Linked DNA regions of Homo sapiens. The protein of the gene in region 2 interacts with the protein of the main gene of each other region in a biochemical or structural test. Each region holds a gene or a part of one and is shown on either strand. Other genes may lie near its edges.

Region 1 (6,936 bases), on a different chromosome or scaffold from region 2:
AACTTCTCACCTCAGGTGATCCACCCACTTCGGCCTCCAAAGTGCTGGGATTACAGGCGTGAACCACCGCACCTGGCCAGAAGTAAAGTTCTTGAAGGAATTAGTTCCTCCGTACCAGCAAAGTTAAAGTTTATATGCTAGGACTGAGAACTAATCTGCCCAGGAGTGCCAGAAAACATTGGTTCATGTCTCAGAGAGAAGGTGAAACAGCCCTTAAACAGATGGCCCAAATGTCATTTCTATGTAAAGTCTCCCAGTTTACAGAGAATCGGTGTGTAGGGTGAACTTTTAAATGTTTCTGATATCTTTAGGGCTGGTGTGACTTCAGGAGTTGTCATGTACTTCTGTGATATGGGGGCTGAATTGCAGAAGGAAGCTTGTCATCAGTGTCATCTCCTTCAACTCTCTCGTTCTATTTAATGTTTACAGGACTTAATATAGTTGTTTATGTATTTTAAAAAGAGGTTTGTTTATTAAACTTTTAAAAAATGTTTTTGATCTGCCATCATTCAAGTTTATTCATTTTGTCTATTTTTAAGTTGTATTTTGTCATTGTAATAAGTTTGTGGGGTGGTTTCTTTTTTTTTCCATTTCTTTTTCATTAACATTTTCATTGCTTATTTTTCATGCCAGTGTACTGTGTCACCTCACCCAAGAAGGACGATAGGTATAGGGAGCCACCTCCCACTCCTCCAGGATATTTGGGGATTTCTTTAGCGGACCTAAAGGAAGGACCCCACACACACCTAAAACCTCCAGATTATAGTGTGGCAGTGCAGAGGTCAAAGATGATGCATAACAGCCTCTCTAGACTGCCACCAGCTTCTCTCAGTAGCAACCTCGTGGCCTGTGTTCCATCGAAGATTGTAACTCAGCCTCAGAGGCATAATTTGCAGCCATTCCATCCTAAACTAGGAGATGTGACTGATGCAGATAGCGAAGCAGATGGTATGTTGACAAGCTCTCTTAAAGGCTCTTAAATGAATTGCTGAACACATTAAATGGTCTTTACTTTGGTATTTTATGGTAATTAGTAATTGTTTCTTTAAATGCCTTGAATCTCTGTTAAAAAGTAAGAAGTTCCTGCCGGCAGGGTGCAGTGGCTCACACCTGTAATCCCAGCACTTTGGGAGGCTGAGGCGGGCGAATCACCTGAGGTCGGGAGTTCCTGACCAGCCTGTCCAACATGGAGAAACCCCGTCTCTACTAAAAAAATACAAAATCAGCCAGGCATTATGGCGCATGCCTGTAATCCCAGCTACTCGGGAGGCTGAGGCAGGAGAATTGCTTGAACCTGGGAGGCAGAGATTGCAGTGAGCCAAGATCGCACCATTGCACTCCAGCCTGGACAACAAGAACAAAACTCTGTCTCCAAAAAAAAAAAAAAAGTTCCTAAATATAGTATGGGGGAGTGTTTTGGTTTTGTTTTATTTTTCAAGATAGGGTCTAACTCTGTTGCCCAAGCTTAGAGTGCAGTGGCACAATAATGACTCACTACAGCCTCAGACTCCTGGGCTCAAGCAGTCCTCCCAACTCAGCCTCCCAAGTAGCTGGGACTACAGGTGCACACCAGCATGCCTGGCTCATTGTTAAATTTTTCCTTTGTAGAGACAGGGTCTCACTATATTGACCAGGCTGGTTTTGAACTCCTGGCCTGAAGCAGTCCTCCCACCCCAGCCTCCGAAAGTGTTGGGATTATAGGTGTGAGCCACCACACCCAGCCAATGGTGTGGGTTGTTTGTTTGTTGAGACAAGGTCTTGCTGTGTCACTCAGGCTGGAGTGCAGTGGCATGATCGTGGCTCACTGCAGCCTCAACTTCCTGGTCTCAGGTAATTCTCCCTCCTCAGCCTCCCAAGTAGGTGGGACTACAGGCACACACCACCACACCCAGCTAATTTTTTGTATTTGAGACAGCATTTTACCATGTTGCCCAGGCTGGTCTTGAACTCCTGGACTCAAGCAATCTGCCAGCCTCAGTCTCCCACAAAGTTGGGGTTATGGGTGTGAGCCACTGTACCCCGCACTGATGGTGTATTTTTTAAATGAAATGGGCAAGCTGCCTATTTCTGTGTGCCTAGTACCCTGTGGCTCAAATGGAATATTCTTATCTTTGATGAAACAGTGGCTCAATCTAATGGGATACTTTTAACATTAATGGAATTGTATTTTACCTTAATGCATGGAAACTTGAAACTGTGTTTCAAATGCCAAATTATCTGAAATGATTCTATTGATATAGTTCCTTTTATTAGCAAAAGTCTTGACTGACTTTGTACCTGTGCCAATAGTTTGAGAAATGATTGTTTTATTGAAAATAAATGAAAATTTATGCTTTTAAACAAGAGTAATAAAATGATTAAAAACCATGAAATTCCAGTTTATTGTCAACCTTCAATGTGATCAGAAATCATAGGTATTATTATAATAAAATCTGGGCCTCGATGCAATGTTTGAGAGGATTTCTTTGTTGACATTGATTTTCTAAATAGATAACTAGATTATTAGGATCTCATTAATATGCTGATCTGCCAGTTAATTATATATTTTTTATTTTCAGAAAATGAACAAGTTTCAGCAGTCTAGCCTTTGGATGACCTATTTGAAAACCACTGAAAGTCGTGGAGGAATGGGCAAGAACCACCTCATGATTCTGCAGGCCATTGCTAACGAACAGCTCATTGCTACAACCAGTCCAGAGGTTTTATTCCCTCTACTCCGAGCAATGAAATAGACCTGAGTTATGCTTCCTTTCATTTAATTTCTGCAGATAAATAGTTTCCTGAGCAATGGATGCTATGCCTGGATACCAGTCTCCACTTTGCACGCCGGAACTGCCTTGGGACCACAGTTACAGAAAAAATGTAAACTCAGAGTGATCCTTGTGTATATTGCTATAGATTTTTCTTTAACAAGCTATTTTAAAGATAATGGCATTATTATTTCCAAGCCATAGCTTGGGCTGAAGGACAAATTGAAATTGTCTGCCAATACCAAGGATATTCTTGTATATTTGAAAAATAACTTATTATTTGAATTGTTGTGGTTTTGTTTGTATTTGAGAGCTCTTGTTAGCTGATATTCATGTTTGAGGTCATAAAATTGTCTCTGGTCTGACCAAACAGAAGTCATCTTTACAGAGGTGATATGCTTGATCTACACAGAGATGTGACTTGATCTGTAGCACCAATGCAATGTAGGTCTCAGTTTGAGAGAAATAGGAAGCCCTTTGCAGTTGAGGTGTTAGGAACCTGCTGGTCATGGTGTGGAAGGCCAAATGAAGCTGCCACAGGGTTTCTTGTCAGTCCTTTGGGAAATGGGAGGGAGTAGTTTGGGGAGGAGGGTGGGAACCCTAATTTCCACAGAATGAAATTTTGATGTTAAATGACATGTATACAAATTCTTCCTTAAGTGAAAGTTATGCTGCATCGAATTGTAACTGAAAGTATAGATCCAACAAATAGAGACTGGGTTCTAGAGAGTTCTGGTCTATAGAAACCCAAAACTAAAATCTCTCATAACTCAAGTATGGAATACTTTTTTTAAAGAAATTCTTATCATGGGTGTTGTAATAATGAAGACGAATTTGACTTTATGCAGTGTTCTGCAGCATGCCTCCCCCACATCTCATAGCACCAGGTTGTGTCTGACCTGACATACCCTGCAGCTCTCAGCTGGCTGCAGTAACATTTTGTGGGAGAAAGAGGAGCTGGAGTTACAGAAATGATTGTCTCTTGGTTCTCAGTTTTTAGCCCTTGAGAGGACATACTTTTCCAGCCTCATGGGTATGGCACTCTTAATTAAAATTTCAGTGACTGTTTACTGGATGAGGCAGATTTTTCACATTTTTGCAAATTAAATATATTTTATATATATTAAGTTTAATTTTTTCAGTTTTTTTAATGTAAAAGCAAGTGAAATTTTAATAAACTTCTGTAATTACCAAAAAAAAAAAAAAAAAAAAAGCCAAAGCCATTAACGTGCACTACCCAGATCAACTTGGAGCCAAAAGGGGTTTACTTCTGAATGGCTGTCCGTATGTGTCCACATAGGATTTAGTTGGTTTGTGGCCTCCTTTATAGAAATGTGTTGTCTTTCCCTAGCTGTCTCTGCTGTCTGTCTTCCTGCATATCCCCCTTCATTTTAAAATCATGAATCAGTTGTAAGTGGTAAATGGTAGTAGTTCATCTTTCCCATCAACATGATTGTCTCTTTATTTTAGGAATAATAGCATTTCAAAAATTCCTGTGGTAAAGAAACATTAATCTGAAACTTAAGCCTTAGAAATTAATCGCAGGTATGATAGAATGAGGCTTGGTGGTTCCATAGCTTTCTTGGTCCTTTGAAATGGGAAATAACCTGAACCAAAAATCCTAGTTTGAAAGTTACACTTCAGTGATTTGGCCTATAAACAGTGGTCCTATGATTATACATTTTTTCCTTCACTGATTTGCATAATTTTGTTTTCATGGCCACAGCAAAACAATGTGAAATATATTTTTGCTATACCCACTTTTTTTATCAAATTCAGATGTCTACTCTCACCATTTTATATTCATTTCCCCAGAAAAATGTGCTGTTTTCATAATGTCTTTATTTAGCAGGTCTTTCAAACCAAATGGAAGCCTTACCTGTCTTTGTCCTTAATAGTGTAAATATCTTGCACAGAGTGTTGAGGCCTATGGTTTTGGACTTGCACCTTACAGCTGCCTTTGTTTTATCTATCTAGCTTTAACTGTGAGTGTTCAGATCAGCTGATCACATTGATCAGGAGCCAAAGCCAAATGCTTTGTAGTTTGTTATGTATGTATCCCTTAAAAAATCATGAGGTTTTGATTTTTATATTTTAACTAAGGGTACATTCCTGCCTTCTCTTAGTTTGTCATATGACTAGAACAAGAGAAGTCTTAAGCTGCATTTACTCCAATTCCAGATCTCCATTTGTTTTTGTTTTATAAATTTATAATCTTAATGAAGAGACTAGTGCCCTCTCTTCCTGCCACAACTCTCAATCTGCCAAGACTGTTGAAGCAGTTAACGCTCAGTGCAAACTTTTGCCAAATAGTAAGTTTCAACAAAATATCTTTATAGTGAAAGATTTTGAGAATTAGTAAATCCAGTACATGATTCCATAAAAGCTTATTAAAGTTAATAATTCTAATTTACTCCAAATGATTACTTTCAATATGATCTTTGGGGAGAAAAAGCCTTTAGTGAATTTTCTTGAGGGTGATAAATCACATCATTGCGATCTATATCACCTCCTTGAGAATCTCTCCCAGGCTGAAAATGTGATGGTAATCATGGGTGTTTTTAAGAACAAATCTAATTTTTATCAAGTGTTCTTTCCTCTACAAAAAAGGAAGGAGGAGAAAAAGCTTCCTTAAAACTGATTATTTTGATTCAATTTTAAGTTTCTAAAAAAGGTGATATTAAAGTATATGTATTCCTTCAGCATTACCTTAAAGGCTAGAAAAACGGGATAAATCTTCAGAAAAGTGTCAAAAGTGTCACAGTACATGTTCAAATTTAAACTTGAATCCTGGTTCATCTTTGACTTTTGTTGTGCATTTTTAATGCTTCTTTATTTTTGATACACAGAATGCAGTTGAACTTGATCTTTTAAAATTGAGACATGTAAGCTAATCAGCAAAAGACAGAAACAAAACTGCACATCTGTAATAATCAGATAGCAATTCTACTGCACAATTCATTGATTGTAAGGTATCCTGTAACAAGCAATGTTTGTCTCCTATTTTTTGATACCTCTTAAACTTATGTCTTTTAGAAAGACAGTGCCTCTGTATGCTTTTTGTATTTTTACTGAGTGTAAATATTTGTTATATTTTTGGTTAAGAGAATGTAAAAATACCATTTATTATTATCATATCTACTAATACATTGGTGGAATCAATAAAGAATCTACATTAATCTTCTCTGTACTTAATTATAAATGTATGGAACTGATGAAATAATTACAAACTTAGTCATTCGAGAGTGCCAGTCTGGGACCTGTGTTGGTGTGAAGGCCTTATTTTTTAACTATCCAGAAAAATTGGAGTGGTCCATTTGTTGTTGGTTATGTCAAATCTGTGAAACACCATAGCTATTGTTTAGGTTTAAAAAATTGTGTTTGATGGCATACCAAGTTAACAGTGGCTTAAACTCAATTGGGGCTTGTCTTTTTGTTATTGTTGTCTGTTTCTTTTTCTTCTTACAGTAGAAAAGTCTACAGACAAAACTGTCCGGGGCTGATACTGTAACTCCTCCACGATGCTGTCAAGGATGGCAAAAGTAGGGGTGAAAAGGATAGGCTTAGGTAAGGAAAAGGTGCAAATATGTGTCTCTTTCTACGCAAAGAGAACAAAACAGTAGTTTCCAGAAGCTCCACTTGCATGTTTGTACTTACATCCCATTAGTTAGACCTCTGTTGCATGACTGGTAGCTCCAAGGGTGCCTTGGAAATTATCTATTTTATCTGAGCAATTGATGTTCCTAACAAATTTAGGACTCTTCAGTGAAGAAGGAAAGAATAGATTTCAAATGGGCAGCCAGCTGGGTCTACGAAAGCATGCCTATTGCCCCCTCTTTTGGGCAGTATATGTAAATACAGCCACTTTTATGGGATTAGATCCCAGGACCCTGGCAAAGTAGAAGGAAATTCTACTTTAGCTCCTTTTTTAAAATCTCCTCACAGTTTTCCCTCGGTACCCAGAGAATGTTACTCCCATTATAGCTAAGACTTCTACCTTCTTCCAGTTCACCCCCTCTTCACCAGGTTTTCCCAGGCCATTCTGTCCCCCTGACCATCTCTCCACAGTCTCACTAGTTTCTTTATTTAGAAAATATATTTCTTCACCGGGCATGGTGGCTCACGCCTGTTATCCCAGCACTTTGGGAGGCCGAGGCAGGCGGATCACGAGGTCAGGAGTTCAGGA
Region 2 (8,127 bases):
TTGGTTCCTAAGCTCTAGTGATCACCTGGAACCAGGAATGACTATTGGCCTCTGATAAATTAGGCTCCTGGGATGACTGGTCCTAACCTCAGTCAGAATCACATGTTGACCAGCCTCCTGGATCTAGTGAGTTCTCAGGGAAATGTGGCTTCCATAATATATTTCACATCAGATTTAACCATTGTAATCTGTTCTGCCAATGAAATGCCCCCAAACAGAGTGTGTCTCCCTGAAAGCAATTGAAAAACATACCTGCTCATGAGCATTGTGTAGTTTGTACAAGCATACTCATGTGAACTGAATGGGAATGCATTCTTGTGCAATGCTGGAATGTTCTTAAGTGTCCAGAGGATGTGCATTGAGTTCCAGAGGCTCTGTACCTGCCAGGCCCTGGGCAGGCATAGAAGGTACAGTCACCTTTATCTGGAGACAGGTAAAAAAGGAGCTGGAGGAGTTCCCTGAGACCTGGGACACCTGGCAGGTACCCATTGTCTAGGGACTCAGCAGAGAATTCAAGCTTTAAGAGGAATTTTCTTGCTGGACTCTGAGTCCCTGTCAGCCCTCCTAAGTCTTAGATCATGCCTCTGAGCCCTGTAGTACTGAATCAATGGGGATGCTTTGGCTGCAAGTAACAAAACCCAAATAACAGTAAGTAAGATTAAGCAGAGCTCAGATCTCCCAAAGATGCTCTCTGCTCTTGGAAGGTCTCTGTACACAGGAATGGGATATCAGTGCCACTTCCAGCAAGTTCCTGCATGGGACAGGTAGCCATAAAGGCTGAGTGTCTGGAGTTCAGAGTAATAGGTTTTGTCTTCTTGAGTCACAGCCTCTTTAATATGTTGATGAGAAGCCCAGGGAACGTTGATGTACAAAGTTGGACATATAATTCAGGGGATTCATGGATCTCTGAAAACCAGCCCTGGATCCCAGTTTAGCCATCTCTGATCTAAAGGCACGTGACTTCTCTAATGTTCATGGCAGACCTATTCTGTAAGCCCATTGTGCAGCCAAGTCAGCATGCCATTCCAGTGCAGTGTGAGAGGGCAGAGATGGGGGCCAAGAGTACAAATAGAGTGGGACAGTTGTCATTGCCCAGCCTGTGAGTTGAAGTCTGTGCAGTCAGCCAGTGGGTCTGACAAAGAGGGCAGTGCTGGCACTGCCTCATGCTTCCGCAGAGGTGATGAGGTTCAGGCTGAGGTGGAGACCACGCTGCACTCGCCATGCATTCAATGGTGCCCCATCTCTTGTTCTCTAGGAAGCATTCCCGCTACCTGTGTGATGCAGTTGGTTCCACCTATTCCCAGAGACTCCACCCTGGCCCTCCTTGCCCTGGCCCCCAGCACTGAGCCCCTAGGGCCATTTAGCTGGCCAGCATGATCTAAGACAGCTTTCTGCAGGCATTCCTCTTGTAGGAGTCATGAAGCAGCAATGTGTATTTTGCTTCTTTTTGTTGTTGTTATATTAAAAAATATTTTTATATTCTAGTCCAATCCTTATTATTTGATTTTTTTGGTTATATGTTATATATAAAAATGTATTTTTTGTATTTTGCTTCTTAATGTCCCTATCATTGTCTTTAATATTCTTGGTAGCTTCACTAGGTGGGGACTGCTGCATGACAATGTGGGTCATCACCGGTTGCTGAAGTGACCTTCTGAGTCTCAGAGGGGTATAGTCCTCGCATCAGGCTACCTTGACGGATAAAACAATATGATTTACATATGGGTTGTAGTGCTAGTAAGATTTTGGAGAGCACCAATAATGAATTCGGCTGTGCAGCTTGTAGTGGCCAAGCAAAGGAGGGTGGGTGGAGAGTTGGGAGCTCTGGTTCTGGCCTCTGTGACCATCTGTAGGGCCTTGTCTGGATCCTGTGCTGCCTGGGCCCAGGCTGCATCTGTGACTTCTCTGCCCAGCCCTCAGTGTCGTCATGGGGATTAGATAAAATATACACGTGAAAATACGCTTGGGAGGCCAGAAAGGGCTGGAAGAATGAAGACCACTACCAGTATTCAAGCAACCTTCGGAGGACAGAATCCTAGACCCAGAAGGAGCCCCCTGAGTGTATTAAGTCGAGTCACACCCCGTAGAGCACATTTCTCATAGTGGTGAGGAAGATGATTTTAGGTGGGACACAGCATCTTTCATTTTAATAGTTATATGCTGGTTTATTTGAATGTATTATAAAAATACAGGCATCAGAACAAACTGGGAGTTTTTTAATGGATATTTTGCCCAGATTAAGGCTAAAGAAGTATTTTAAGTAAAAAAAAAGAAAATTTTTAAAAGTATGGTGGTTTTCAGATTAAGCTAGTTATAGTACAATAGTAGACAAATATGGCCCAAATGGGAAAGTGAGCCCTTGAGGAAAGGCTGGGAAACTTTCCACAAGGGGAGTCCTTCCTTCCCTGACAGCCCATTAGGGGTGTGTCTTTGACTTCACCTGGACCCTTCTAGAGACACAGTGTCTCTACCCTTTGAGTCAGTCCACTGCATTTGCGGATTCTCTCATTGTTGGGAAGTTCTTTCCCTTCTTCCCTTAACCTGTCCCACATGAACCTTTGACAGTCCTGCTTTTCTCCACCATGAGCAGCTTTACTTTCTTCAACTGCTCTTCAAATGTCATAGTTTAAAAACAGCCCCTCTGTATGTCCGTCCTTTCTTCCATCCATCCTTGCAGCCACCCACCTACCCGTCCATTCATTGATCCATCTCTCCATCCATCTTTCCTTCAGCAAAGACTTGTGGGCTGGACCCTGTACTGTATACTTTATATTCGCTATCTCTAAGCCTCACAAAAATTGTGTTAGATGTAGTTAACCTTTTATAGATGTGGAAACCGAGGCTCAAGGAAGTTAAGTAGGTCACCTGCAGTCATAACCTGAGAGAAGCAGAGTCAGAAAGGAATCTGGCCATGGTCTGTCTCTTCCTGAAGTGCATGCTCCTTCCGTTAGACCGTGCTGTTCCCAGCACTGGGTGACCAAAAATGTCATGATCCCTTCTCTCCTGGTGCTTAGGGGACCTATCCCATGGAGGTGTGGCTCTACATAATCAGTGCAGTGGGCAAAGGCCTCATGAGGAGCAGGGATGGAGCAGCCTGTGCACAAAGATGTGGTGAGGCAGCAGAGGTGCAGAAGACGCTGGCTGGCAAAGAGAGGCAGCGAGTCCCTCGCTGGCAGGAGTCTTCCCTGACTGTCATTAATCTTACAGTCACAAATGAACCCCTAAATCATTTGTGCACTTTTTTTTTTAATTTTGAAAAAGAAAAGTGTAAAGGGTAGTATAACAAATACCATGTACCTATTACCCAAGATGAACAGATGTGACCATTTTGTCTGCACTTGATCCTTTTCACAGTAGGGCTGGACTTAAAACCAGACCACTCATCCTTTGCCCTGGCCAGTTTGGCCCATCCTCAGCCTGCAATGGGCTTTTGGGAGCCTTGCTCCTGAGTTTTCATGTATTGGCTCTCTCTTGGGGCTTCATGTCCTCAGTTAATGCCAGTGGGCCTCCCTAGAAGTTGTTGACTAAAGAGGCTTTTGCTGCTTCTGACCACATTGTGGAGAAGCCACTCTGGGGAGAGTGTGTGTTTTTGGCTATGATCTTTTTCAGAGAAGTTCATCTACCCTCACAAACACCTGCCTTGACCATTGTGGGTTTAGCCAAGCTGTAGAGCATGGTTTAGTCATAGCTGCCTAAACTGAACTGTAATATTAATGATAGGTTTGTATGTTTGGAAGACAGAGAAAACATATTCTCTTTTTATAATTATATGACAATGATAACAAAATGCTTTTTGTTGTTGTTAGCAGTGAAGTCTCACTCTGTTGCTTAGGTTGGAGTGTGGTGGAGCAATCATAGCTTATCACAGCCTCGAACTCCTGGGCTCAAGCCATCCTCCTGCCTCAGCCTCCTCAGTAGCTGAGACTATAGGCATGTGCCACCATGCCCATCTAATTTAAAAAAATTTTTTTTGTAGAGATGGGGTCTCCCTTTGTTGTTCAGGCTCATCTTGAACTCCTGGTGTCAAGCGATCCTCCCACCTCGACCTCCCAAAGTGCTGGGATTATAGGCATGAGCCCCCACACCTGGACACAAAATACATTATATACTCTAAAGTATAGGATTACTTTAAGAGAAGGAAACTAAAAGTATGATGGCTTACTTTGTAATCCATAACTTCACAGTTTTCCCTTCCTGCAGCTTTCACAGAAAAAACCAGGTGCCTGGTACTGGGTCCTTCTCTCTGCCAAGCAGGAGTAAGGCGGCAGAGCCAACCCTGCATCTGCAGTTAGAAGCTCTCCATGACGACAGGACGCAGCTTCTCACCCAACTGTTTGCAGCCTTCTCCTTTCCACCTACTGATTGACTCCTGAGCTGAAGCCTGGTGTTATCCTGTTTGCATGTAGTTTGCCATGAGTTAGAACAGTGAGTAAAGCTCTGCTTTTTAAAGCTGTGCAGAAAGATTCAAAAACTTCTGGAAAGGCTTTCTTATCCAGGGCAGATTCTTGTCAGTCCTTATTGGGGACCGAGATTTCATCTGGTTTCATAATAGATAGTGGGGACCTGCGGGAGACCCCAAGTCCTCTTCATTAAGTGCTGAGAATGTCTTGAAACATTTTCCTTCCCTGAGTTGCCCTTAAAGAATAACACCACCAGGCTGGATGCAGTGGCTCACGCCTGTAATTCCAACACTTTGGGAGATTGAGGCAGGAGGATCACTTGTGGTCAGGAGTTCAAGACCAACCTGGCCAACATGGTGAAACTCCGTCTCTACTAAAAATATAAAACTTAGCTGGGCGTGGTGGTGTGTGCCTGTAGTCTGAGCTACTCCAGAGGCCAAGGCAGGAGAATTGCTTGAACCCGGGAGGCAGAGGTTGCAGAGAGCTGAGATCGCGCCACTGTGCTTCAGCCTGGCGACAGAGAGACTCTGTCTCAAAGAATAAAAATAAAAAATAGCACCACCAGATCCTTTTCCCTCATTCTGATGGAGATGCTGCAAAAGCCAGCGAAGGCTGGGTGCTGAGAGACCTCAGAAGGCCCTGCTTTACTGGGGCTTATCTTGCAATGGAAGCCGTACCAGTGAAGGCAGTTGAACATATTATACAACCAGTGCCTATGAGATTATGTGGAAATCCACATATGTGTTATACTTACAGGCATACCTTTTTAAAGACAAGTTTGGGTTTAAAAAGAAACTACTTGGCATACTGTATATTAGGCTGGCCCTAGTATACCAAGTACACAGATTAAATGTAAAAGTATTTGTGGGCATGTGGATCTGTGGGGAGATTGCTGGAGTGTAGTGGATTCAGGAGACTCCCCCACCCCTTTAGGAGCTGACCATTTATGGGGGGTGTTGGCGGCAGATTCTTGCCTCTCAAAAGCATTATGTATTCATTTCAAAAGCAAAATTAATTTTGGTTCAGTTTAGCTTTTTTTCCTGATCCTTTAGAATTTCAACGTGCCTTCTTGAAAATTCTCCCTTTTTAGATAACCCACAAATTCATTTCTTTATATTTTCACTCCACTGGAAATGGAGGCTCAAGGAGGAGACAGGCAAAGCCGTCTTTCTTGGCCAACACTGCTCTCACCAGTCTATCATGGTCTTCTTTCAATGTCTGCTTTATTATAACCAGAGATGATAGAAGGAGGGTGGGATCACTGTCCCGAAGACTTGGGGGCGTATATTTTTAAAAACTTCTATGAGCTATGCCTCCTTAGCCTTCCCTCTCCACCCACATTCCTCAGGTTGAGGTTCCTGGGGCAGAGCTGGAAGGCCTAGTCTGTCTCATGCTCCTGCTGAGGAAGTCCAGCCCAGGAGAGGCCAGGTGCCCTGGCACTCCCAAGCAATTAAGGCCAGCTGGCATCATAGCCTTCCCATCCACCCCTACTCACTGACCCCGTCCCCCCGTCCCACCCACCGCAGTGGACAGCTGCCTGAATCCACTAATCTGGGGCTGGGTGGGTGTTTCCTGCATGTTTGAGATTTTAGGAGGAAATCAAAATAAAGAAACAAAGCCTTTGTTTTATTTCTGGACTCCCAACTGGGTATGGCTGGAGGGATGGAAAGCAGGGAACAGGAGGAGCAGGTCACTTGGCACTTCAACAAAATAACCATTCTAATAGAGCATTTAACAGGAACTTTTTCTATTTAGGGTTGGGGTGGGTAAATAGGAAAGACGGCAGGGCTGGGAGAGCCCCTTTGTGTGGAAGGAGAAGGTGGGGCCGCCCTTGCCCCAAGCGGGGCCTCTGGCAGTGCCTGGTGTTCAGGCAGGGAGGGGTCTGAGGCCACCCAGCCGGGCTGCAGAATTGGCAGCCTGGGGACTCAGGGACTTTCAGTCCTCCCTTCCTGAAGGAACCCTCTGCTCCAGTTCTGTCCCACTACTTGTCTGTGTGAATCTCCACCTCTATAGCCTCCTCTTCCATATCTGTAATGGGAGTATCCCAGCCACACTCTGGCCTTTCTTCTCTAGTCCAGTTATACTGGGTCAGGCTCTCACCTGACATGTGGAAATGAAGAGGTACATCCCCCAGTATTTCTTAATTCTTCCAAAGGATTTTCTCCTTGTAGAAATTCTCTGAGGGTTTCATTTATTTTCTTTAAAAATTGCCCAAGTATTGATGACAGCCCTCCCCATCTGCAGTATTTCTGAAGATTTCAGGGTATGGGCCATGCCCACTGGCCGCCTGGCCTCCACTCCACTTTGCCCCATGTGCATACAGTAAGGTTGGCTTCTTCATCTGCTAAGCCACTATTATTGCATGTAACAGGCATCCACCAAGGGCTTTTAAGAAAGGGAGTTGTCTGCAGCCCAGATCAGGGCAGAAGTTAAAAATGAATGTCAGACACCCTCCCCTTGCTTGCTCACACCCTTGGAGAATGTCTCTGTGGCTGTCTCCTCAAACCTAGTTTACTGCTATTTTCCAGGGACCAATTTTCCTGGATACTTTCCCCCAGACCTTCTGAAAACTCCAAATTTTCATTACTTTTGATTGCAGAACAAGGATAACAATCTGTCTTAGACTAGGCTGTGGGCTGCCCTTGTCAGATGTAAAGGGGTCTGGGCATGGTGGCTCACGCCTGTAATCCCAGCACTTTGGGAGGCTGAGGTGGGTGGATCACTTGAGGTCAGGAGTTCGAGACCAGCCTGGCCAACATGGTGAAACCCCATCTCTACTAAAAAAATACAAAAATTAGTGAGGCCTGGTGGCATGTTCCTGTAGTAACAGCTACTTGGAAGGCTGAGGCAGGAGAGTCGCTTGAATCCAGGAGGCAGAGTCTGCACTGAGCCAAGATTGTGCCATTGCACTCCAGCCTGGGCGACAGAACAAGACTCTCTCAAAAAAAAAAACAAAGATATAAAGGGGCCATTAAATAACTCATCTAAAAAAGAATTAGGCACTCTAGACCTTACCTTTACCTACAGTAAGAACCAGCAGAAGTGCTGGGATTATTAAGCTATCATTATTACTAGCCAGGTCAAATCAGTCCTCTCCTAATGACCAGGGCAAAGCCAGGTGTTATTTTTTCCCTTTCCTGTTAGAACATTTTGTAACATAAGGATTAGAGATGATGTAGATTGACAATATTTATTGAGTACCTTCTCTGTGCCAGATATGTGCTGGGCATTGGAGATACAGTGGAGAATAGAACAGAGGGTGGGCCCTGCCCACATGGAGGTGACGGTCTAGTGGGGAAGATGCATTACATGTTTACGTCTTGTAAACAACTAACTAGCAGTTAAGTGCCAGCATACAGGATGCTGTCAAGGCAGACAGCTGGGTGCTTTGGGAGACCCTGATAGTAATCTCATATAGTCTGGGGTGCAGTGGGGGTCAGAGAAGTATATTTAAGGTGCTTAGCATGTGGTCAGGGCTTAATAAACGGTCATTATAATGACCATCCCTGGCCACAGGGCCCAGCCTGGTTCCGCCTCCAGCTGGTGGCTGCTACCACCCACCAACAATAGTTTTACACAGAGAGGTTTTTCATTAGGCCAAGGTTATACAGCTAGCAGAGGGGCTTTGATTCATGACTTTTTATAAAAGTGCTGTATGTAGAAAGCAGAGGGGTGGGAAGCTTCCCTCGACCCCCCAGCCAATACTGACCTTTGGACAGGCCTTGCC

What was found. Proteins that work in one complex are often made in the same cells at the same time.
Region 1: the proteins of MRAS (region 2) and RAPGEF6 form a complex in vitro, tested with the Homo sapiens proteins (one study listed by BioGRID).

What each region holds. Positions count from the first base shown.
Region 1 is NC_000005.10:131,422,914-131,429,849, reverse strand, and holds the end of RAPGEF6 (rap guanine nucleotide exchange factor 6), read left to right. Parts: intron 1-633; coding exon 634-948; intron 949-2,558; coding exon 2,559-2,584; 3' UTR 2,585-5,929; downstream 5,930-6,936. UniProt on the Homo sapiens protein: Guanine nucleotide exchange factor (GEF) for Rap1A, Rap2A and M-Ras GTPases. Does not interact with cAMP.
Region 2 is NC_000003.12:138,350,994-138,359,120, forward strand, and holds part of MRAS (ras-related protein M-Ras isoform 1 precursor), read left to right. Parts: exon of another isoform or gene 1-4,425; intron 4,426-8,127. UniProt on the Homo sapiens protein: Signal transducer in the Ras-MAPK signaling pathway that regulates cell proliferation and survival. Core component of the SHOC2-MRAS-PP1c (SMP) holophosphatase complex that regulates the MAPK pathway activation.